Regions from separate parts of the Homo sapiens genome. Here regions 1, 3, 4 and 5 are each linked to region 2. The links come from fine-mapping of genetic effects on gene expression. A gene starts in region 2. Each other region holds a variant in brackets. All regions are shown on one strand. Distances are between the middles of the regions.

Region 1 (5,107 bases), 85 kb after region 2:
TTTACAAATGCATCACAGTTGAAAGTGCCTGAATCTAGAGTTGTCCATGCTGACTTCTAGCCAGGCCAGGCCAGTGGCACTTCTGTGATTTGGAGGAGACTTTCAATGAAATTAGATTGTAGCTGCTATATTTAACTTTTAATTATACACTATTGGGATGTTTTAATTTCTAAAGTGTCACAGCCAAGGCATGAAAATGTGGATCAAGTAGGCAAATGGAATTAAAAATACAACAACATAACAAACTCTAACATCCACCAATTGTGTCTCAGGTAATTAATTAGAGCAGCCTGTAGTTACTAACCTGTGTGGATGTTTCACTGCTCGGGAAGAATAGTCCCAGTGTTTTCTAGATTAGTGGACTGTTCCAAGGAGGGCTGAAATAAGTTTCAACTTGAATTTGTAGATCTGGATAGTCAAACCTTAACAATACAGGCATAGGTTGTCCTCTGTGGGTATCTGTAGTGAATTACAATTCTGTATTAACTTCTACACGATTACTTATCCTAGTCTCATTAGGGAACACGAAATTACCTGAACAAACCATAAGGTAGCATAGACGTTCAAATCTGACATGTGCAAAGTTCCTTAAGCTAATTAGAAAATACACACATTGATCTGTGAATGGATGCCCTTCTGCTCCTTTAGGGCCAGTGATTGAGAGGTGTCTGTTGGAGGTTGGTGTTGAACTTGTGCTTGAAGTCTCCGGATACAAAACTTCACGGTTCTGGTTTAAGCAGAAGTCTTCATTGAATGACATCGATGTGGAGAGAAAATTCCTTGGCTTTCTGTCAGCTGAATCTGCTGATTTGTAAGACTCTTGGGGCAGGTTAACAGCCTTGTTGGTTGTTGTGCTGTGCTGACAGTGGGACCAAGCGGGGATCAGGAAATAGTCTAGGGCATTGCAAGGTTGGATTTGCTTACATTGAGGTGTTCCTGTGATCTGTGCACATCACCCAAGGTGATCAGGGCCTTGAGGCTTAGGCTGAAAGGCTGGCTTTCGAGGCAAAAGATCAGAAGGAAGAAAACATGCTGGCACCTGATGTATATCCCCTTTTGCTCTGCTTCCATCTACGGTTGCTGCCTGCTCCTCTGACATGTAACTCACCTCCTCTGTGCCTCATATTGTTAGAGCTAAATTTCCCACTGAACCCAGACTGTTATTTTTGACCTGCCCTGCCTATTTATTTGTGCACCAGTGAGTGTGTGAGTAAATGCATTATTTTTATTATTATTATTTTTTCTTTTGAGACAGAGTCTTGCTCTGTTTGCCCAGGCTGGAGTGCAGTGTCATGATCTCGGCTCACTGATCTCGCTGATTGAACCTCTGCCTTCTGGGTTTAAGCAATTCTCATGCCTCAGCCTCCCGAGTAGGTGGGACTACAGGTGCTTGCCACCATGCCTGGCTAATTTTTTGTATTTTAGTAGAGATGGGGTTTCACCATGTTGCCCAGGGTGGTCTCGAACTCCTGAGCTCAGATAATCTGCCTGCCTTAGACTCCCAAACTGCTAGGATTACAGGCATAAGCCACTGCACCCAGCAAATGCATTAATTTTTAAAAATTATAGCAGCTCTTTTGGAAGAATTGAAACATAGAAAAATTACCCCTTAGTCCATTGCATTTACATGGTGATTTTCTTTTTCATTTCATTTTTTGGCCACGTTTTTAATTTTTATTTTTTGCTGTGGTAAAACGTTAAGATAAAATTTACCATCCTTGCCATTTTTAAGCATACGGTTCAGTGGCATTAAGTACATTTGTATTGTTGGTGGTGCAATGATCTTCACCGTCTGTGTCCAGAACTTTTCATGTTCCCAAACTGAAACTCTCTACCCATTAAACAGTAACTCTTCATTCCCCCCACCCCTTCCCCTGGTAACCACTGTTCTCCTTCTCAGTCCCCATGAATATGCCTATTCAATGTAACTCATAAGTGGAATCAGGGAAGTTGTGTCCTTTTGTGTCTGGTTGATTTCACTTAGTATAATGTTGGTAAGGTTCATTCTTGTTGTAGCATTTGTCAGAATTTCATTCTTTTTTAAGGCTGAACAGTAATACTCCATTGCATGGATAGAAACCTCATTTTGTTTATCTATGCATCTATTGATGGACATATGAGTTGTTTCTACCTTTAGGTTATTCTACATAATGCTACTATGAACATTGGTTACAAGTATCTGTTTAAGTTTCTGCTTTCAGTACTTTTGAGTATGTAACTGGAAGTGGAGTTGCTGAATCATATGGTAATTCTATGTTTAGCTTTGTGAGGAAGCATCATACTGTTTCCACGGTGTCTGCTGCACCCTAGCAATGCACGAGGGTTCCGAGCCCTCCATATCCTTATATGCTTGCAAAGGATATGTGTCTTTTCCTTTTTTTTTTTTTTTAATAATAGTCATTCTGATGGGTATGAAACAGCATCTCATTGTGGTTTTGATTTGTACTTATGCATAGGTTTTTTAAAACTATGTTTAAACAGAGTGTACTTATTTTTCATCCTTGATCAGTTAATATTTTGTCATGTTCTCTTTTTGCCTTTCAAAGGACTTTTTTTGTTTTTTATTATATATGGACAAATTATAGTTGCAAATACTTAAGGGGGTACAAAGTGATGTAATGATGTTTGAACTCAATGTGGAATGATTAAATCAAGCTACCTAACCTATTCACCTCAAATATTTAACTTTTTTATAACATTTGAGATTTTCTCCTAGTGATATCGAAATGTACA[G/A]TATGCTATTATTGTATTTACCATGCTGTGGAATAGCCCTCAAAAAAGGAAGAAATTCTGTCATTTGCGACAACATGAGTGGAATTAGAAAACATGCTAAGTGAAGTAAGCGAAACACAGAAAGACACCACATGTTCTTACATATGTGGGATCAAAACAATCGAATTCATAGAGGCAGAAAGTAGATGAGTGGTTACCAGGGGCTGGGGGAAATGGTAACGTGATGGTCAAAGGGTACCAAGCCTCAGGAGGAGTAAATTAATTTATTTTTGAGATCTAAAATGACTAATTTTAATAGCTTTTTTCTGGGATCCATCCTGAAGTTACCAGTTTTCTGAAGAAAAGCATTTGAACCAAGAATCCAAATGTGGGCTTCACTACAGAAAGGAGAAACACAGGGCAAAACTGTGTCTAGGCGCCCCTGAGACCACCCCAGGAGGACTGTTGGGCTCCCTGTGACCTGTTTTGGAACTCTGGGGGAGCTTTATCAGGGAATACACTTGCTGGAAGCTGCAGAATATGGGAGAGACTCCGATTGTAACAGGCAAGTTTCTGGTGAGACAAAAATGGATTAAACCAAGACTAATGCCAGGCATCAGAGACAGCAAAATCATCCAATTTATCATCCTTCCCTCAAGGCTGAGAGGTTTTTAAGTAGTTTGGAAAAACTTGGAAAGGGATAGGGAAAGCTTGAGAATAATTTAAAAACTTGTCCCCTGCAGGCCAGTTTGCTAAAAGCCGAGTTTTACCAAAAGGCTAAAGCAGTAATTAAAGCAAAAAGCCTTTGAAAAGGAATCTTGAACTACCCCATTAACAGAGATTACAGGGTATGGTTAGTAAACACCAGAGTATTTAAAAGAGAGTAGTGACACAGAAATGAATGCCTTGTGAAAAGACGAATTTGGTCACCACAAATTATAGAAACTTTCAGAATATACAGAGAATGCCTGTAAGCCAAATGGAACTGTTGGTAGAACTGAGTTAAAAAGTGTTTTCTGTAGAGTTTCATTTGTAAACGTGATTTTTAAGAGTACAAGCTGAATATTACTTAAAATGCCAGTAGGAAAAAAAGTCACACCCCTTTCCTAGTAACTGCTTTTTGAACCTGAAGTTTTTGGAAAGAAGCATCGGTTTCTGAGTATGATCTGAAAGTACTGGCTTTAATAAGGTCTTTCTCCGAGAATTGTTGCTTATCTTACAAGGCAGAAGTGACAAGGATGGTACTCAGCACTGGGGCATTGGGTATCAATGGTGAGCTCATCTCTGTTTCAGGAAGGAGCTGACCAGCGACATCTCATTCCAAAAATTGCCAGATAGATGCAGCACTGAGCTGCCTCCCAGGTCATCCCAACTGATTAATGTGGAGATCTGCAGACTAAAGCAAAGAGAAAAGTGATTTGAATGGACCTGAGGGACTTTATCCTCCACTATGAGGTTGCAGGGGGTGCCTTCTGTGACGGTACCTTTGTAAGTTATTACAAACCTACTGGTGGAAAAACCTTGACTGAGTTCCACTCTGAATCCCAGTTGTAGAAGCATCATGAAATTGAGCACAGGAAAGACTAGGAGTAGGAAGAACTGGGTTTCGGACTCAGATTTGCCTGTTATTCGCCTGAGATGTCTGGCGTTGGTTGCTTGCCTTTCTGCAAGGATTGTAGGGTACCGTCCAACGCATCTTGTATGTGGGGACATTTTGGAAACACATAATACTGTGTAAGCATTGTTATTAGTAGGTAAAATGGTAAAACTGAAATGAAACAACGCCCTGCCCAGCCCCGCCACCCTAACAACTCATTTCCCCTTTAGGCATTTTCTTGTCAGTGGGTACAACACTTCTGTCAGTATCTTTGGCTCTGAGGAAGTCAGTGGAATGAATGACTTCAAGTCTTTGAAAAATAAATTCATGGCTTACTGTGGGCAGTAATTTGTTTTATCCCAAAGCCGGTAATGTGAGGTATTTGAACCAACCACAAATTAATTATCCTACTATATTTGCAGCAGTGTTAGGGTTACAGGTACAACCTAAGCACCATTGCCATATCATTCTGTTTCTGGACAATTAATAACATGCAACCGTGTTGGGACAACAAATCAGTGCTAACCTCTCTGGGGAAACTCAAGTGCAATTGTGAGATGTAAATCTCCATCCACAGGCTCTGCAAAGGGGGAAATATAGGAGTGGCTACTTACTATGTGAAATGCACAGACATGACTAAGAGTAGAGAGTTGTATATTCTGCCTCCCAAAATCCTCCTCATGTGGCTTTCTCCAAAGCCTTCTCAGAGGACACTGAATTCACCTAGGAACTTCGAGAAATGTGAGATGATTCAATTCTGTTGGCAGCAGTGCCTTTCCTGTTACTGATTACTGGCTA
Region 2 (5,107 bases):
TGGATGTCACACACCAAAAATTTAAAAAAATTTTTGCATATTTTTAAACATTTTAAGCCATTAGGTTTTAAAGGTAGTTTTGTTACATCACATAGATAATAGGTAAAAATATCACTTTATAGTACTTACGATTTGCAAAATATAGTATCTTCTGAGTCAGGGATCAGCAAACATTTTCTGTAAAGGGCCTGATAGTAAAAACTTCAGGCTTTGAGGGCCATATGGTCTATGTCATATCAACTCAACTCCATCCTTGCAGTGCAAAAGCAGCTATAGATAGTAGGTAAATAAATGGTTTTACTGTGTTCCGATAAAACTATTTATAAGAGTAGGCAGATGAATGGATTTGGTTTACAGGCATAGTTTTCTGAATTCTGTTCTAAGTTGACAGTCTAGAAGAAGGTATATAATTCTCATCTCATAGTATGCATCCAATTATTAATAATTAGCTTCTTTGTTGTCTTCAGAAAATTCTGTATGGGAAGAAATCTTGCAGGCTTTGTTATAAAGAATATCAAACTGGCACAGTGGCTCACACCTGTAAACCCAACACTTTGGGAGGCCAAGGCAGGAGGATAGCTGGCAGCCAGGAATTTGAGACCAGCCTGGGCAACAGTGAGATCCCATCTCTCTTTCCCATGATTCTTCCCTTAGGGTAGGCGTTCTGCATGCATGGTGCTCTTCTTACCCTGGGGAATTGAGCACACACAGTGTGTTTAGGAAGTTGTATGCATGCCCATACAACTGGCTTTCTTTTTCTTTTCTTTTTTTTTCCAGTGGAGTGTACCTGGAAGATCATACTTCGCCATTTTTGTCTCTTAATAATTTTGCATTTTTCTTAGAGATGGAGTTTCTCCATGTTGCCAGGCTGGTCTTAAACTCCTGGGCTCAAGCAATACTCCTGCCTTGGCCTCCCAAACTGCTGGGCTTACAGGTGTGAGCCACTATGCCCGGCCCAGACATTTTCTTTTTTGCCAATATTTTGCACATGAGCTGTAACAAATCATATATAATAATAATAATAAATGGAATATACATTTTTAAATGATTGCTTGATTTTAATTCTGTGGGGAGGAAGAGTGCTACAATTAAGGTAATAGAAATGTCTTTTCTTTCCTTTCCCTCCATGCCGTCTCCCCGCAAAGAATTTCCTAAGATTTTGATGGATTCTTATAGAAATTGTACAAGCCTATGGAGTGTTTATTTCTCCTCTTAATAATCACAAATAACAACCAAATATTAGAGATTCCAAACATTGAAATGGCAGGAAAGTTCTTTTGGTTCATAGATTTGCACACTTTTTCCTTGGCTTCCCTCGAAGTGTGAGCTTATGAGAGAGACTAGATGTGATAAGACGTAAGGGGAGAAAAAGGTCTTGGTTACTGGCAGAAATATAGCCGCAGGGAGACATAAATGTAATCAAAAAGGCTTTCTCAACTGCAGAAAAGAATTCCAGCCTTTTTTATCCAGATGGGCAACCCTCTGGGTGGGCTGATTTTGTGAGTCAATCAGATCCAAAGTATATGTCTAGAGATTACAAGGAAATAAATACATTTGTGGGTCAGAAATGTTTCACCTGGTCCGAACTGCTTTCTTTCTCTCTCATTTTCATTAGTTTGGAGTGTGTGTGTATCTAAACCGCCCTGCTTTTCTCTCAGATCAGTAACACATTTGCTATTAACTTTGATACAACACTGCTTTAGAAATACAGGTTACAGTTATTCAGAATTTTAAGTTGAATTTATTTATACTGTCTCCATTCTTTAAAGACTAGAAGTGGTTTAATAGAACATACATGATGTATTTGTGTGTATTTGTGTCATATGCTTTTGGAAAAAGTCACTTGTCAATTCCACAAATAGTTCTTGGGCGTCTACTATGTTTAAAGTATCTTGAAGTTTATAAAGATGAATGAAATGTCCTTGATTGAATCTTGGTGTACTACCTTGTCCAGAAACACTTGCTATTTACTAAAAGGATAACAACCTTACCTGCATATCAAAATCACCTGGGGAGCTTGTTGAAAATACACCGGCCCAGGCTTCGGCTCTCAGCTTAGGGAGATTCTGATAATACGCAGAGCCCAAGGTGTGTGTAGTTTTAACAAAAAGCTTCCCAAGCGAATCTGATACACATCTAGGATTAAGAAACACTGCTTTAAACTAAGAAAGGACTAACTGCAGAAGTTCAGCCACAAGTCAACCAGATGTATGCCCTTAACATTCACATGAGCAGTTGGCTAAAGTCTCTTATAAGGCTATTTCTATTTCCGAGGTTTCAGAACGGGTAGTTATAGTCTGAAATACACCCCAGAGGACAGAGTCAGGTCCAATCTTTTCTGTAAGACACCTTGCTCAAGACTGCTGTGAAGGAATAAGAGAGCTGCAGCCAAAGATCATCCCAAAGTCTCCCAGAACACTCTATCATTATATCCATCTCACATGAAATATGGGTGTGTACATTTTTTCCTTCACTAGATTGGCAAGTATTCCAGCGCAGGGCAAATCTCTTTTTTCTCCCACCAAGGAACACAATATCCCATACATAATAGGTGTTTGACAGGTTTTTTTTTTAAATTGAATTGAATCCTTACCTAGCTCCTAGGGTCTGACTATATATACCCATAAATTATACATCTGTTTATAAAACATTTCAATCACACCAAAGAACATATATATGGAAGAAAGAACGATAAACAAGCACCCATGGACCCACCCCCCCGTTTATGAAACAGAACTTTGCCAGTGCTTTCGAAGTTCCTTACTGAACTAGATCTTTTAAAAACAGCAACGATTTTCTGAATTTTAATCAGAAGGCATGCATTCCTTCATTCATTGATTCGATTCCGTCATGGTCAGACCCGCCTACCAAGTGTCAACATGATATACACGATGTAAGTATTCCACTGTTGGGGTGAGGAGGGTCAAAAGTGACAATATGCTATCTCCAGAGACTACGGATCGCCTTTGCTGCAAATGGTCCCAACCCGGCCTGGCGCTCTAGAGCAGGCGTGGTTTCTGCGCGCGGACACTTTGGAGAGAAACTACGCGTCCCGGCAGTCCGCGGGGCGAGTGGGCGGAGCCGGGCCGGGGGCGGGGGCCGGGCGCCGGGCGAGAGGTGGCATTGTGTAGGGGAGCGCGGAGCTGCATTTGTCTGCTCCAGGTGCTAGCCAGGCAGGCGCAGCCGTGGCCGGCTAGGGCTGGAAGTGTCAGCGGCGGCCGCGGGCCCGGCAGAAGGCCGAGTAGGAGGGACCACGCGCCGGGGGCCGCGATCTCTGGCAGGGGGCGGTGTGCCAGCGGAGCACCATGCACATAGGCGCCCAGCGCCCCAACTACCCCTCCCGAGGAAAAGAGGCCGGGGCCGCGCTGGGGCGGCGGAGAGCATGAGGGAGGCCGGGGGGCGGCTCGGCTTGGAGCGCTGCTAGGGAGCGGTGCGCGCCGCACACCCGCCTGGGCGCGGCGGAGGGCGGGGAGCCGGGCAGGTCGCGCCTGCGGGCGGCAGCCGACCGCCGGGAGCTGTTCTGATTTCCGACGCGCACGCTAGGGGCCCGGAGCAGCCCCCGGCCCCGGCGCGCCGCCGACATGGGCAACGCAGGGAGCATGGATTCGCAGCAGACCGATTTCAGGGCGCACAACGTGCCTTTGAAGCTGCCGATGCCAGAGCCAGGTGAACTGGAGGAGCGATTTGCCATCGTGCTGGTAAGTGCGCGGCGGCGGTCGGGCGCGGGGACCCGGGGCCCCGGGCCGGGCGGCGCAGCTGACCCCCGCCCCTCCCCTTCACCCCGTGCCGGGAGCGAGCCTCCATTCCCGAGGGGGAGGCTCCCGCTTTCCCCTTTGTGGCCCCCCAGCACTCCTCTTCACCCCCCTGGCAGTCCCCCGCGCTCAGTCTCTCGGGGTCCCGGGATGGGGATGGGGGCTCAGGGCCGGCTGCCCAACCAGCCTCGAACCCATTGTCTGGCTGGAGAGGCACCTCACGGCGCGTGTGCCCGGGAGGTGCGGCGTGGGCGTGAAGAGAAGGTGGCGCGGGCTGGGAGGAGGAGGTGGCGAGCCGCTTAGGCTTTTTTTTTAAAAAAAACAAAACAAAACAAAACAAAACAAAACACCCTGAGCCCCTGCGGACCATCCCTCGGGCGGCCAGCCCGGGACCTGCGAAGTCCCCGGCAGATGGGGCGCATGTGGCCGGCCGCGGGCGCCGCGCCGGGCGGTGAGCGGAGGCGAACTTGGAGGGCTCACGTCGCGGCTTGGCCAAGGGGAGCTTCCCCGAAAGGGAAAGCGGAGACCCACAGCAGTGCGGCGCCCCGGCCCTTGGCGAGGAGCAGGGGCATCTGAAACCCAGGCCGGGGAGAACCTCAGCGCGTTCCCTCTAGACTTAAATCTTAAACCACAAAAATGTGGAGTTTTGCGGGGACGTGTTGCGAGCTGTCCTGACTGCACGGGCGACCCCTCCCCTCCTCTTGCACGCCCAGCCAGGTCCCCCGCTCCCTCCTGCATTCCGCTTCTCCCAGCTTTCCAGCTCCTCAAATCCAGGACTCTGAAAACTCCCCTCTTTCTCCCTTTCCTGCTGGGACAGTGTCTGGGCCCCTCCCAGCCGAGGCTTGTGCTGTGAGCTGCAGAGGGTGTGGCGGCTTGCCCCAGCCAGGATCTGGACTGCTGTTGGTCCCCCAGACTACCAGTTTTAGTGTCCCAGCCTCTTCTAAGGGATGTTGGGAGGGACACACACAGGCGAGATTGGGCTCATTCCTACTCCTGACACTTGGACACTTCTCTTTTCCTAGTTGGTTACCTCTAAACTCCACAAGACTAGGCAGCAAGGGAAACTCGTGATCCGGGCAGCCAACGATTGTGCCTGCCTGCGGGTTTTCTTTTCTTCTTTTGTTTTCATGAAAACTTAGAACTTTGGCAGAGGACTCGAGTTCTAGATCAAAAATCGGTTTTCTGAGGTGTGCTCAGCTACAGGACGTTCAAATTGCCTGCCTTCAGGCCTTGAAAAAGGAATGGTTTGGTATGGGAAGTGATGTTCTGGATGGCAGGTTAGCTGTGTGCTCTTTGGGAGAACTGAGCTCTCTCTCCCGCCACCTGGAAACTCTGGTGTGGCCGTCGGGGAGACA
Region 3 (5,107 bases), 98 kb after region 2:
CAAAAAAAGCAGTGGCAGCAGATGTGTGCTTTGAGCAGTTGGTTATATTGAAATTTTTATAATACTGGTTTTATCAAATTATGACTAATTATCCCTTCACTTGCAAAATAAAGTGGTTTTCATTTTCTATGTGGAAGTCAAGAGACTGTACTGTGCTTGAGTTTTGGAAATGAGTTCTCACGTTAGTCCATTTTAGAACTTGCGACCAGGCTATCCTTTGTCTCTTCCTTGACAGACAGCAGTGGGTTGCCAACGTGCCCTTGTGTGCACACTCACCTTTTCTCTTCTCTTTATTAATGTTCTGTTATAGGCAAAATGAACATTGTGCTGAAGGTGTGTTAACTCATTTAATTGGAGATGAGTGAAATATCATTTTCTAATGGCCTTCTGCATGCCTTAGAGCCCAGGCCTATGGGGTACGTTGAAGACGTGAACATTGTAATGCAAGTTAATGTTTATATACCTACTTTCACTTCCATTCATCTCTTTCTTTAAAGGTTGATTAAAGATTTATTTCAGGCCATGCACGGTGGCTCACGCCTGTAATCCTAGCATTTTGGGAGGCCGAGGTGGGCGGATTGCCTGAGCTCAGGAGTTCGAGACCACTCTGGGCAACATGGTGAAACCTCGTCTCTACTGAAATACAAAAAATTAGCGGGGCATGGTGGCACGTGCCTGTAGTCCCAGATACTGGGGAGGCTGAGGCACGAGAATTGCTTGAACTCGGGAGGTGGAGGTTGCAGTGAGCCAAGATCATGCCACTGCACTCCAGCCTGGGTGACAGAGTGAGACTTGGTCTCGAAAATATATATATATATATGTTTATTTCAGCAAATTCTGGAATTATGCCCTCCCCTCCCCCCTTTTTATTTTTGCTGATTGATGTTTAAAAGTGGACCATTAAAAAATGTAATTCCAAGATTGCCTTGCATCTGTTTTGAATGATTGTGTTTTGCTTTACAAGGGGCAGAATGACTTTTGGGGCCAAATGCTCAGCTGACTTTTTGTTCGCTGTTTTCTGCAGGGATCTTGAGAATAATGGTTCTTTTTAAGGCCAATTGTTACTTTCTTTCTCACACAAAGGAAAAAAGAGACTATCTTTAGGAAACACTGCTTTAAATCATCTTCCTTGAATATTAATTCTCTGTTGCTTCCTCCAAAAATGGAGAAAATAATCCCTACCCTCATAGGCTTATTATAAGGCTCAATTATGATAATGGTGTGAAAACTTTGAAAATTAGACTTCAGAGAAATTGAGTTAATCTGGGATTATTTATCAATGTCTTAGTAACCAAAAGTTTAAAATGTGTTTTGTTTACCAACTGGTTGCATGTACATGGTTAATCCAAAAGGCTCAGCTTTTCAGCAAATGGAAAAAGATTAACTTCTTTATGGATCACATTATGAGATGAAACACATTTCATTCTAGCTGCTGAAAAAATAGCAACATGTTTTTGAAACCATTGTGATTTTGTATTGCAGTCACTAAAACATCAAATATATCATTTTTATGTTAAAGTGCCCTAATTTGTGTTGTTACATAAAACTTGGAGTACCTTGACCAAATAGAAGAAATTAATGTGCCGCGTGTCTGTTTTAAAGATGAAATCTGAGCCCAGTGTGAGGCTCATGCCTGTAATCCCAGCACTTTGGGAGGCTGAGGCAGGAAGATTGCTTGAGTCCAGGAGTTGGAGACCAGCCCGGGCAACATAGGGAGACCTCATCTCTACAAAAAATAAAAAATAGACAGACATGGTGGCACATGCGTGTAGTCCCAGCTTCTTGGGAGGCTGAGCTGGGACAATTGCTTGAGCCAGAGAGGTCAAGGCTGCAGTGAGCTGTGATCACACCACTGCACTCCTGGTCTGGGCAACAGAGTGAAACCCTATCTTTAAAAAAAAAAAAAAAAAAAAGATTTGAAAATTTAAATCTTGAGAAGGATTCTGAAGATTTTTGAGAAAATATTTTATTCCTCTCTCTGTTATCTGTGTGTATGTGTATATACACATACAATTTTATGAAATGTGGTTTATGTGATTGTTTTCAGTATTTGGCTAATATCTATGTAAAAGAAAAATGGGCCCACAGGCTGAATATGTGTTTTCTCCTCATAAATAGGGGACTGGTGGTTGGTTGCATTTCTTTTTTTTTTTAACAGTCTCAGATGATTCTGTCTTCATTTCCACTTTGCTCCCATTCTGGCATTGCCTGTGTGGATTGAGCATGTGAAAGCTTGACATCATGATTCAATCATTCTCTGATTTTGCAATAATTCAAAGCAGAGCGGAAGCATTGTGAAAGAATCATGCCAGTTTTCTTAAGGTCTGATACACCCATCCTAATTTACAGTATTGTTCTAAAGATGCACCAGGAAACACACATGCA[T/C]GCACACACACACCCTAGTGAGACATCTGAGGGGATTTGGCTGCCTCCCGTTCCTTTCCTGTCTCCTCCCTTTGTTTCCAGATGCATCAGCAGATGGCCGTCCAAAGCTCTAAATTTGTACCTTGTGTGACCTTTAGCCTGGAGAAAGGCAAATTTATTCTGAGGATAGACTTCCCTGCCATTGCAAGTAGACCTTCTGTCAGTTGTTATAAATAAACTCAAGTCTTTGGATGTTCCTTCTGAGGTTGAATTGGCATAGGGGGCCGTTAATTAAACTGTAGCCTTTCTTGGGACTCTAACAAATTTTAAAGATGAGTAAGACAACATTGGAGGTACTCCCTGATAGTCCTGCAGTGTAGGATAATACAGGAGAAGCTCCAGGATCCATCTCCTGAGAGCTGGCTTTGCAGCGTAGGATAATACAGGAGAAGCTCCAGGATTCATTTCCTGAGAGCTGGCTTCAAAAGAAGTTTTCAGGTTGCATGGCAGGCATTGACATGGACTTTGGAGTCAGGCAGACCCGGGCTTGAGTTCTGCCTCTGCTCTATACTAGCAGCGCTTACCTCATGGAGCTGTTAGCATTAAATGAGGAGGTATTTATCTATCTGTCATTTCCCAGAACTGATCCAGGACCTAATAGGCGCTGAATAAATGGTAGGCCACTTAATTTTATATCACAAGAGCACATTCTTAAATCTTTATTCAAGGACAGGAGGCCCTGGAACTAACTAATGAAGGAAAGGGAAATTGCTGTGTGCCATCAAGCAGAGGATCAGAAAAAGAATATGAGAATAATTTTATTAGCACTTACAATTCACTGCGTTTCAACTATTGCAAAATAACAGTATGCAAGAGTGTAGGTTGTCTTACAGAAATGATGTGCTCTTGTTTGTGGCAGCTCATTTTAGGGGAGAAGTCATCTAGGTTACCATGTGTTTGTAGAGCAGAAGACTTAAAAGTGGACAAAGGAAGTTGGCATTATTCTGGAGGATAGAAAATCAACCCAACTTCTCTTCTCTTCCCACCACTGGACTCTGGGTGAGCTTGAGAATGGGAAGTCTTTTCTGTTGCCTAGTGAGTCAACTCTTAATGTAGTCTACCGTGGACATCAGGGTTGGTCTGAATGTAAAGTTGCATGCCCCTGGACACAGTGCTTGGGTGAGAGATGACAGAGGAACAGCTGGACAAAGTAAATGGGGTGAGAATAATGGCCTGGAGGTCCTTGGGGAAAACTTGTCACCACCTTAGGTTGGCTGTGACTATTTACTAATATGAGCTGTGATCAGAGGCTGAGGGATAAAGCAGGCCAACATTTCCTTTTCTTCTTATTACTGATTTCTTCTAGTTCTTCCCCCATAATTGGCCCCAACCTTCTAAAGAAAAGGCTCTGCAGACAGCAGTGGGGGAAAATCAGTCTGATGTAGTCTGGAGAAAATCTTTGTCCTGCCCTGTTTTCCTGTAGCTTTGAAAATCTCAAATGCAAGGCCAAACAACGAATTATTATTAACGTGATAGAGGAAACTGGTACTATTAATGTCATGCAAGGAGAAAGCCCATTTTGAGTAGAAACAGAAGGACATTTATGAGGGGAAAGTTGGCTGGGTAGGGCAAAACTGAGTAGTAGAAAATTTAACTGTAATTATTCCATTGAATTTTTTTAGAAGGACTCTTCAAATTATTGAAAGTTGCTTAGTAATTAGCATAGTAACCATTTACAAAATACACTCTGACCTAGAGCAACAGGGAAGGGAGTCAGAGAGACAAGTTTTGTGCAGACTGTCAGCTACAGCAGGAAAGTATGCACGGTGAATTTCCACGTTAGGTCAGGCCCATGTAAAATTTACAAATGGCAGGGGGTATGGAGGAATAAAGGCATTAGCATTGCATATGACCTGGTGGCCCTTTGAAAACTGTGTTTGGGGTTTATGTTTCTAGTTGCAGCTAAATCTGAATTTGAGGTTTTAATCCTTTTGAACCAAGCTAGGTCTAAGAATTAGACATTTGATCTCATGCATCTTATCCAGCACACAAAAACTTGAGTGCTTCCTTGGCTTGGACATAAGCTGGATCCCAGCTGGCCCCTGATTTTAGTTTCTGTGAAGTGATTAGTGATTAGGTGGCACCATGGTAAGGCAGGGTGCTGTGGTGGCAGGGTCTTCCCCCCATGCAGAAGGGCCCCTGCAGAACACAGCAGTAAGTTTTTTAACTGGCCTACTCCTGCTTGCCCCAGAGGGCTGAGAATTGGTTTTTAGATAGCTGATTTGTTTGTTATTGGCTCTAATTAGGCAGGTAGGCTTAGCTCCTTTAATTATTCATGCTACTTTGCGGAAGCTTAAGCTACTTATTCAGAGTTCCAGGGCCAGGACTTGGGTGGGAATTCTTTGGCAGGGCCAGCTGCAGAATTAGCATTAATGTGATACTAATCCCTGGGATGGCCCCTCAGAGCAGTGTACCCAAATGTTTGTTTTTCACATCTAGAGTCCACAAACATGTGCTCAGTAATGTCCAGCAGGCTCTAGCACTCAACATCTAGATGGCATGGTTTATGGCCAAGGAGCTTTGGAGCATTGGTCAAAGTCTCAAGCAGAGAGATCAGAGATACAGTCTAGAAGGTATTCTTATATTTAATCTCTCTCTGGAGGCATTGGACTCATATGGCCTAAATTTTTTGACTCAGATACCTGTACATACATGTACACCCCTCACCTTGCTCTCTTCACAC
Region 4 (5,087 bases), 290 kb after region 2:
CTGCCAACAGCCGTATTATCATGCCTTAAAATGCTGCCAAATAATTCATGTCCTCTTGCCAACCAGAAGATAGAAAACAGCATCCTCACCTCACCAGAAATAAAATGGGAGGTAGGGGTTAGAGCAGGAGGAAGAGTCACTCTAATGCCTTGAAATCTAAGCTCTTTGTTTTGACTCACGGAAACAAAGATGACGCTACGAGCCGTTTTCTCAGTCCTGAAGTGTTTCCCTGGCATCTGGAATTGCTCTAAGCTTTGCCATCCCTGTGACGTGGGGTAATTCTGCCTCCTCATTTACTTCAGCCTGTTCATGAGGTCTCTTATTTACAATAAAGAACTACCACTCTAATAGCCTCCATTTCCAAGGCTGTGATAGTTCTCAGAGCCTTTTGCCCAAAGTCTAAAAGCCAGTCTTAGCTGTAAAGATTTCCCAATCTCCATCCCTTCCAGGATCCCATCTGCAGCTCTGCCAGCCGGTCACTGGGGCTCATTCATCCCAATGACTGGAGCCCTTTTGGATGCCCCAGAGTCACCTAGAATAAATTCACTCCACATCAAATCCATGGTTTTACTTCCACCCCGACTTCTATATAAAACTGTCAGGGAAACAAGATTCCAGTTCACAGTAAGGTCCACAGTAAATCGGTGACTTATTTCTACCCTTCAAGATCTTCCCCGTCTACCACTTTCTTCTAGAACTTTTATTACTTCTGAAGGAGAAAAGTTGGAGCAGAGTCATCGTGGAACTGATGGACTATGGAATATAAACAGACAAACAAGAAACCTCATATCAAGCCCCGGGAATGTGTTCCATCACCAGGCTGTTGTCAGTAACTGGGTGTGGAAACCCATTATCGTCCCGTGCACCTGGCCACCCTGATTAGGCACTCTTGGTAGCCCCCAAGGCGCACTTGCTGTGAGATGTGTCTGCTGTGGTATCTCATTTGGGGCTGCTTCCTTTGTCTCTGACAAACGCTGATGTGTGATTTAGCACCCACTTCCACGCACCTGAGCACTAACATAGACCTCAGAACCGCCTTAGCCGAGTGAGAGCCCAGAGGCTGAGATGTGTCTAGAGCTTCCTTCCAAGGGGCCATGTCCTGTGTGATTGATCTATTTATTAATTGTTTTGCTTGGGTTCTTCCCACTACTTGATTTTAAAAATGTGTTGGCTCTGTCAATTGCCTCAATATTTTAAGGTGTAGAGCTCTGTGCTTGGCTGATAACCAACTGCTTTTAGGGTTTGCTATACTTGGAAGTGGTCCCTGTTGTGGCTCATGCAATTTAGAGGACTGTAGGTGGGAATACAGGAACTCTTTATTTCCATAAGTGTCCACTAAATGATTGTGAGGGATGTCTTGGAAGCATTATAAGATCCTTGTGAGTCTTTGATAGCTCGAGATCAGGCAATTTCTCCAAGGCCTTTAATCTTTCTTTATTATTCATCCTTATTTAGACTGTTAATTCTTAGTGATTGAAGCCCATTTGGTGAGATGTTTTGCTAGTGTGTTGAGTAACTCTCTCTCTCACTCTGGAACCAAGAGGCCAGACAGAATCAGGATGCCCAGTAGAATGAAGAGACAGAGCTGAGCTAATATTCTGAAGCCTCCTGGGAAGTCAGAAACCTATGACATCACTTGGCCTCTGGACCCACAGGCAACACGAGGGTCTTATCTCTTCAATGGGCAGGTGTGTTCTTGGAGACCAAGACAGAAGACCAAGAGGAGAGCCCCATAGTTTATCTAGTTGAGAGTTTTCTTTGTATTTTATAGAGAAAATAGTAGTAGTGTGAAATATGCATTTGAAGAAGAAGGCTTCCTTCCTCTCAAGTCTGTGATAGAACAACCTGGCTCCCTTTCCCCCGGTAGGTCACCTGAGACAGGCTGCTGAGCAGGTGGAACCTTTGCCGTCTGTCTGGGAGGATGTGCTCGGATCCTCACAATGCGAATTTGGACTTTGGTTGATTGTTTTTCATGTAAAAATTATTCCTATCCTATGGAATGCCTAGCACAGTTCAGTATTGCTGTTTGGTACCACTACGATGAAATAATTTTTTTCTTCCCTCTTCTAAAAAGGATAATTTTAAAAATGAAATAGTTGAGTCTTGGAGGCAGGCCTGAATGGAAATGAATTTTTGGCTCTGTGCCGCCTTGTGAAATGTGTCCAAGAAGCATGAAATTCTATGCTGAGTGCGTGAACTGCTGAGCCACTTGACTCTAACCATATCTAATTTTTTTTGTATTTTCTCTGTTCTTTCTGCTTCCACAAAAGATGGGCCAATCAAGCTTTTCTGTAGGTTGCTCCTCACTGAGTGTGTTGAGTATTTGCCATGTGTTTCTGTTGGTCACACTGTGCCTTGACATCTTTCCACTCCATTTTGCTTTGATCCATTGCATTTTGACTTTGTGTCTGCGGGAAGTCTTGGTGGTGGCTGATGATGATTCCAGGTTTGCCCACACATTCTAGTTGAACCTACATAAGAGACTATTGTCCTTGAAGCAGACATCCTGGATTCATATGCCCTCTTCCATTTCCTCTGAGAAAAGGTTTTTTTTTTTTTTTCTTCTTCTTCTTTTAATTTTTATATTTGTATCTGAGACTTCAACTCTAAGAACAAAAAAAAGGTGCCAGGTGCCCCTTTTCCATTCCCTCCCTCATGCTGGTCTCTGGCCCACTCCAGGGAGCACTCACCCGCCTTTAGCCCGAGCCATGGGGACACAGTGTGTCCAGTGGTCACCTATGTGCTTTCCTCCTCTTCCCACTCCCACCCTGGTTAAAGCCAGGAAAACCTTTCCAAGGAGGAGAACTTTCTTGCCTGTGTTCTGATCTCAGGCTTATTCCTGACCTTGCTAAATAGTTAGAAGGGTGGTTGCAAATGGCAAACTTCTAGCGAGCGTCATGAGCCTACCATGTCTGTGGGAGGAAGGTAGGACGCCATTGGCACCAACCTGTCACCTCAGGTTATGAAAAGACTCCTCTGCGGCCCTTCTGCTGCTCCCCAGATCCCTAACATTGCCGAAGTGCCAGAGGCAATGCTAGGGCAAGTGCTAGAGGAAAGTCTGTTCCTTTGTCCCATCGAGAACATCTGTTTTCCTGGGTAGCGTAGACAAAATGCTGTA[C/T]GGTGAGGAATCTGACACTGTGGCGTAGTGGGGACAAAGGTGTCATGTTTGGTGGTGGAGAGGCCTGGTTTGGCTAAAGCTGTGTCTGTTTTTCTGCATGCTTTTGTGTGGATTTATCAGATGACATTCCTGCTGTTTAAATGGCCTTTGTAACTCTGGAGGAATGAGAGGCACTGTCTGTCTCAGTTAACGCCAACTGAGGCAGGCAGGCAGGCAGCCAGCTACAAGCTTAGTCGTGTGTTGCTTTTATTTTGTTCTGCACTGAAGCGCTGAAGTTCTCCTCCCTGTCTTGCTAATAATGACAAATAGTGAAGCTCCCAAGTAGTGTGGTAGGCTACCCAGAACAGACTGACGAAGCTGAATGTGTATGGCTAAATGGTTTGGGAAGACTTCTTTATGATATATAATAGATAAATATAATTTTAAATGGATTACCTTTTTTGGCATATTCCCGCACAGTGAGAGGAGTTGGCACTCCCCATAGTCCCTTAAAGATACATCCCATTCTCTCTATTAAGAGGTTTTCAGTATTTTTAATGAGTGTGTAGATACCTCCTAGTCAAACACAGCTGACTCCTGGGAAGAACTTGCTTTTCAAAATGAAGGGCAAGGGACTGTGGCTATTTCTGAGTCTGAGAATCCATACAATTCCTTCCCTTCCCTCCCCTCCCCTCCCCTCCCCTCCCCTCCACTCAATTCCCTTCGCCTCCCCTCCCCTCCCTTCCCTTCCCTTCCTTCCCATCTCAAAAAAGAGGAGTTTCCTCCCTTCCTCCCTTCCTTCCTCTTTTTTGAGATGGAGTTTCGCTCTTGTTACCCAGGCTAGAGTGCTATGGCGTGATCTCGGTGCACTGCAACCTCTGCCTCCCGGGTTCAAGCGATTCTCCTGCCTCAGCCTTCCGAGTAGCTAGGATTATAGGTGCACACCACCACAACTGGCTAATTTGTGTATTTTTAGTAGAGACAGGGTTTCACCATGTTGGCCAGGCTGGTCTTGAACTTCTGACCTCAGGTGATCCACCTGCCTTGGCCTCCCAAAGTGCTAGGACTTTGAGCCACCACGCCCAGCAATTTCTTTTCCTTCCCCCCCGCCCCTTTTATTTATTTATTTTTAAGACAGAGTCTTGGTCTGTATGTACCCCTTTTTTCACTCTGTTGTCTTAAACATTTTCTTAGGCTGGGCAAGATGGCTCACGCCTGTAATCCCAGCACTCTGGGAGGCCGAGTGGGGAAGCTCGCTTGAGTTCAGGAGTTTGAGACCAGCCTGGGCAACATGTGAAACTCTGTCTCTACAATAAATATAAAAATTAGCCAGGCATGGTGGCACACAGCTGTGGTTCCAGCTACTTGGAGGCTGAGGTGGGAGGATTGCCCGAGCCTGGGAGGTCAAGGCTGCAGCGAGCCATGATTGCGGCACTGCACTGCAGCCCGGGTGACAGAGCAAGACCTCAAAACCTATTTTCTCATTTAGGCCATTCATATCCCTTAGTCTGCTTGAAATAACCCAGCAGCCAATATATCTTCATTATCGGAATCACCCACAGGAAGTCAGCCTTCATGACGTTGTACTTCTGGTAGTCTAGTCAGCCACTGTCTGCAGTCCCTGATCATCTTCTAAGGTTTGTTTGTAAACATGTGGTCTGCAACCAAGAATTTAGGATGTCCAAATATGGCAAGTTTTTGCCCTCTCTGCTATCTAGTAACATGAGTAATAATCTTTGCTCTCCAACACTTTTTATTTGTCCCAACCATTGTCCTAATATTGTAACTGTAATGCAGCAAATTAGTTGCCTGAGTTAAAAGAAAAAAAAAAATCAACCCTTGGCCCTTAAGACGTCTTTTAATACAATGATGTGTTAGTCAACCAAATGATGACCTCAAATGGCTCTGGCCAAGGCCATGTGTGTTGTTTTCCAGCTTTAAAAACCTACTTGCGCGCCTCTTGCCAACCTTCCTCCAGTGTCAAAGTGTC
Region 5 (5,107 bases), 280 kb after region 2:
CATAATATTCCATTGTTTGGATATACCACATTTTGTTTATCGATTAATGGACATTGGCTTCTTTCTACTTTTTGGTTGTTATTAATGATGTTACTCTGAACATCTGTGTAAAGATTTTTATGTGGACGTATATTTTCATTTCTCTTAACTGTATATCTAGAAGCGGAATCGCTGGGTCATATGATAATGCTGTGTTTATCATTTTGAGTAAAAGTCACACTTTTTAAAGTGGCCACCCTTTTTTACATTACCACCAGCAATGGATGAGGGTTTTAATTTCTCCATATCCTTCCCAACTTTTGTTACTGTATTTCTTTTTTATTATAGCCATCTGAGTGGGTGCGAAGTGGTGTCTTATTGTGGTACCTCTGTGACTTTTGAATTTAAAAATAAGTATAAAATATTTTTAAAGAGGCCGGGCGCAGTGGGTCATGCCTGTAATCCCAGCACTTTGGGAGGCCCAGGCCGGCGGATCACGAGGTCAGGTGTTTGAGACCAGCCTGGCCAGCATGGTGAAACCCCATCTCTACTAAAAATACAAAAATTAGCTGGGCGTGGTGGCACCTGCCTGTAATCCCAGCTACTCGGGAGGCCGAGGCAGGAGAATCGCCTGAACCCAGGAGGCGGAGGTTGCAGTGAGCCGAGATCATGCCACTGCACTCCAGTCTGGGCGACAGAGCAAGACTCCATTTCCAAAAAAAACCATATATATATTTTTAAAGAACCAATGAAATGAAGGAAAAGGAAATCGGTAAGTGAGCCTTTTTTATGAAATTGAAAGCACATGTCTGCAGTTAAACTGAGAAAAAAGTTTGGAGCCCATCTAACCCCTTGACAATTTCATTTCAGGTGGCTTCTATGCAGTTTATTAATATTGTAGTCCATTCAGTAGAAGATATGAATTTCAGAGTTCACCTGCAGTATGAATTTACCAAATTAGGCCTGGACGAATACTTGGACGTGAGTATAGCTGTGACCTTTGGCTCCAATATAAGAATTGACTTATTATTGCCTGCCCTCAAAGGTACGCTTCCATAGCAGCTAAAGAATGCCTAAAGCTCTATGCAGTCAACTACTGTAGTGCTAGTTAAAGGGAACTGAGCTGAGTGATGTACTCTGCCAGAGATGCTGGATTCTTGCAGGGCTCCTGGGATCTCAGGTCATCTTCTGCTAGCAGCCTTTTAGTACGGGAGTCAGATAACCTCTTGCAGCCTTGCTGCAGCTTTCCTCTCCTTTTGAGCTTCATCTGGGTCAAGTCTCATTGCATCCTTCATCTGGGCTATTGGGCAATTTGTGTTCTTGGTTACTCCGGGGACCCCATCTGGGCAGAGAAAGTCAAGCCAAGACTGTAGAGTGATGAGTCAGTGCTTAGAGCATAAAAAAAAAATAATGAGGAAATGGACACCAGAGACTTCCTCCTGAAGCTGCTAAATTCTGCTTCAAGTGTTTGTGGCTTTAGAAGTTCCACTTTTAGTTCTTAGGAGAAGGAGGTTTAAAGTTTCCCTTTTTCTCACTCCCTTGCAGAAGAGTTTAGCCAGTTCCCTGAAGTTCTTCAGTTAAGAAACAGAAACTTGTGAAAATCAGAAATGGTCTTGAAAAGGCTGATGGCTCACACCTGTAATTCCAGCACTTTGGGAGGCTGAGGTGGAGGATCACTTGAGCCTAGGAGTTCAAGACCAGGCTAGGCAACATAGTGAGACCCCATCTATACAAAACACCAAAAAATTAGCCAGGTGTGGTGGTATGTGCCCGTGGCCCCAGCTGCTTGGGAAGCTGAAGTGGGGGGATCATTGGAGTCCAGGATTTCTAGGCTGCAACAAGCTGTGATTGCACCACTGCACTCCAGCTTGGGTGGCAGAGCGAGACCCTGTGTCTAAAACGGAAAAGAAGTGGACCTGAGGATCCAGGCAGTTTTGTTTTCCCTTTTGTATAGGAATGGTCTAGTGATAGAGCAAGAATTGTTGACCTCAATTTCCTTCCTTTTTTTTGAGACAGGGTTTCACTTTGTCAACCAGGCTGGAGTGCAGTGGTGCAATCTTGGCTCACTGCAACCTCTGCTTCCTGGGTTCAAG[C/T]GATTCTCATGCCTCAGCCTCCTGAATAGCTGGGATTACAGGCACTATGCCTGGCTAATTTTTGTATTTTTAGTAGAGACTGGGTTTCACCATGTTGGCTAGGCTAGTCTCATACTCCTGCCTCAAGTAATGCACCCAGCCGGTGACCTGAATTTCAAGCCTGTTTCCAGCTGTGAAGAATATAGAAGTACTTCCTTTGGGCATCTCAGGAATTCAGTTGCCCATCTTTGTTAGAGATAAACCCAAGGGATTGCACAGACTGTACCCTCAGTTTATTAGGAGACGGAATCACAGAGGTGGTTACTCTCAACCTGAAGGCCTTGCTTCCTAGACTGGCTGGGCTGCCCTTGAATAGATGGGCCTACTGTTGTCTAAAGACTACTCAGGGAGAGGCGTAATAGATTTCCATTAAAATGTTGTTTGAATTGCTTTCCTTTTTATTTAAAGGCTCATTTATATCACTGGCAGAATATTGTACAGAAAGACTCTTTCTTACTTTGAGATCAAGGTTTGTCTATCCCTTTTTCTCCTATGCTCTAAAAGTATCAGTATTTGAACAAAAATTGGATGTATAAATTCCTAGCGGTGTTTTGGGTTTGGTTTTGTGGTGTCTGAGCAGAGCTTGTTTATGCTGTAGAATATAACGGCAGGTACCCACTTATCACTGAACACCTGTTATTCATTGTGAATCTCATGAAAAATCCCATTAAGCTGCTTCTCCTTTTGTTCTAGCCTTTGCCCTTATTTAGAAGCCATTCTCACTTGTGACTCATAAATGAAAACAGAACACTCTCTCTTCAGAATAAGCTGTATTGTAGAATTCCAGATTAAACCTAGGGGAAAATCCATTTTTCTGAAAATTTATGTAGAGTGGAATTTCTCTTAAAAATGTAAGATTTTTTGTCAAAACTCTGTATTTCTTTAACTTCATCATGTGTTGACTCTGGAACCTAATAGAGGTGGTTAGAAGAGTAATGTAAATGTATGCTATATAAATGCTTCACTAGTTTACAAAAACCCAGCCTTGTAAGTAGCCATTGATTTGTTCAATAAATGTTGATTGGCATCATCCATGCACCAGGTATTATTCTAATCACTCATCTGTTCCCCAGGGAAAGTCATGACTTATGTTACTTGTAGGGAAGATTCACTGATTTATTTGACCTCTAATTTCCAGAGCTAGCTGAGTCCCTGCAGGATGCCTAGTTTGGGAGGCAGTGAATTGGGGAAAGCTTTCTGATCTGCCTTGGGGAGCCCTGAGCTGTTCATGCTGTATACTGACTTAGGGAGGGATGTGTGGAGGTTGGGCTCTAGCAATTTGTGCTAAAATAATCCCCAAGGCTAAGTATAAACTCTGTCAGTGTCTGCCCCACCTCTCGCCTAACCTTCTTCCCCTACTGGAACCACTGTAACTAACCAGGTAAGATACCAAACACTCCAGTCTTTTCCACTACACAGATACCCCTCAGGTTTTATGTGGCCATGACTATAACCTGTTAAAGCTGCTTTTAATTTTTCTGTTGTCCCAATTTCATGTATATCAAAATGTTTTACATAGGAATATAACTACATGGGGCAGTAAGGATTTGGGGGAAAATGTGTGTGCATTTGGGAGAGCGTATTCACCCGAAAGTCATCTGATGATACTGCTTAGGCAGTCACTCCATAATTCTCTTAAGGAAGATGACATGTTAAGCTCTCTTGGAAAGGGCTGGACTATTTGTCGAAAAGAAAACACATAGACTGGCTGGGTGTGGTGGCTCACGCCTGTAATCCCAGCACTTTGGGAGGCTGAGCCGGGTGGATCACGAGGTCAGGAGATCGAGACCATCCTGGCCAACAGGGTGAAACCCCGTCTCTACTAAAAATACAAAAATTAGCTGGGTGTGGTGGCGCGTGCCTGTAATCCCAGCTACTTGGGAGGCTGAGACACGAGAATCGCTTGAACCCAGGAGGTGAAGGTTGCAGTGAGCTGAAATCATACCATTCCACTCCAGCCTGGGTGACAGAGTGAAACTCCATCTCAAAACAAAACAAAACAAAACAAAAAACAAAAAAGACAGACTCTTAGGAAATGATGTTCTATTTCCATAGATGAGCTAACACCACGTTCTCTCCTATTCTGGTTTTTAGAAGCTGAAACACACTGAGAGTGACAAGCTTCAAGTCCAGATCCAGGCTTACCTGGACAATGTTTTTGATGTAGGAGCTCTACTGGAAGATGCTGAAACTAAGAATGCTGCCTTGGAGAGGGTGGAAGAACTGGAAGAAAACATTTCTCATGTAACTATATCTCAGAAAAGGAAAAATTGCTTACATTTCAGCTGGTTGCAAAGCAGAATTAATGTCAGCTTTTATGGTGGTAAATTTAAGGATTTGGAGTATAGGAATAGGCCATACCCTGCAAGAGAGAGCTATCAGAAGCTGTTCTGTGTTTTTTCCAAAAAGCAGATGTGTTATGTAAAATGAAATAGAATCTGTTGCTTTGCTTTAGCTCACTTACCTGCTCAGTTTCTGCTGAGGTGCATTTCCTGGCAGTCTTGCTTACAGGCTCAAGCAGAGTGGGGGTGTTTGATGATTGGCATTACGTAAATGATTAGAGGGAAATTAAATATGAGAATTTGGCCTGAGGCGAAGAGGTATCTTCTTATCAACTATGTCCACACAAACCCATGGACAGGATTAGCTGGTGTCTCTGTGATGCATGTCTGAACATTCCTGTCTTACGGTACTCAAATTCTTAATAGAGTCATTTCAACAATAGGCATTTTCAAGGACATCGGTGTGCTTTCTCATATATCCTGTTCTTTGAAGAATGTCCTCAGTATCGTTGTCAGCTCTATCACAGGACAGGGTCTCATTTTTCTTTGAGGGATTTTTCTTGCCATAGACTGATTTGAATATGACTCTAAGGGCCTTTAGAGATTATTTGTTCATTCATTAACCACATATTTCAGTAGTAAAAGAATTAACAGAAAAATGGTGCTTCTCAAAAACCCAAGCATTATGAAGACCAAATTCTTTTGGTGAGTCTG

Which allele goes with the higher level. Positions count from the first base shown, and alleles are read on the strand shown. Sizes are in standard deviations (SD) of each study's normalised expression. Not every link is listed here.
For the expression in minor salivary gland of the gene that starts at base 3,152 in region 2, allele G in region 1 goes with a lower level than allele A (moderate effect, 0.47 SD a copy in GTEx).
As copies of C replace T in region 3, the expression in fibroblasts of the gene that starts at base 3,152 in region 2 goes up (moderate effect, 0.40 SD a copy in GTEx).

Evidence for each region. PIP is the estimated chance that this variant, and not a neighbour inherited with it, causes the effect.
Region 1: its variant is fine-mapped to the expression of FMNL2 in minor salivary gland (GTEx, PIP 0.91).
Region 3: its variant is fine-mapped to the expression of FMNL2 in fibroblasts (GTEx, PIP above 0.99).
Region 4: its variant is fine-mapped to the expression of FMNL2 in whole blood (TOPMed, PIP 0.91).
Region 5: its variant is fine-mapped to the expression of FMNL2 in whole blood (TOPMed, PIP 0.99).

The regions. Positions count from the first base shown.
Region 1 is chr2:152,416,603-152,421,709 of GRCh38, forward strand. All of the region lies in intron 1 of FMNL2 (formin like 2), which reads left to right. Among named protein-coding and RNA genes, the nearest start is that of FMNL2, 84 kb to the left of the region's middle. The variant G/A (reference allele first, on the strand shown) is at 2,734.
Region 2 is chr2:152,332,023-152,337,129 of GRCh38, forward strand. It overlaps FMNL2 (formin like 2), which reads left to right and starts at 3,152. Exons shown (of 26, transcript NM_052905.4): 1 at 3,152-3,698. The coding sequence starts at 3,582. RefSeq lists silencers at 2,952-3,601, 4,112-4,211.
Region 3 is chr2:152,430,073-152,435,179 of GRCh38, forward strand. All of the region lies in intron 1 of FMNL2 (formin like 2), which reads left to right. Among named protein-coding and RNA genes, the nearest start is that of FMNL2, 97 kb to the left of the region's middle. The variant T/C (reference allele first, on the strand shown) is at 2,386.
Region 4 is chr2:152,620,267-152,625,353 of GRCh38, forward strand. The region is part of intron 15 of FMNL2 (formin like 2); the gene reads left to right. Among named protein-coding and RNA genes, the nearest start is that of PRPF40A, 95 kb to the right of the region's middle. The variant C/T (reference allele first, on the strand shown) is at 3,119.
Region 5 is chr2:152,610,646-152,615,752 of GRCh38, forward strand. It overlaps FMNL2 (formin like 2), which reads left to right. Exons shown (of 26, transcript NM_052905.4): 11 at 850-960; 12 at 4,206-4,355. Among named protein-coding and RNA genes, the nearest start is that of PRPF40A, 100 kb to the right of the region's middle. RefSeq lists an enhancer at 1,657-1,736. The variant C/T (reference allele first, on the strand shown) is at 2,073.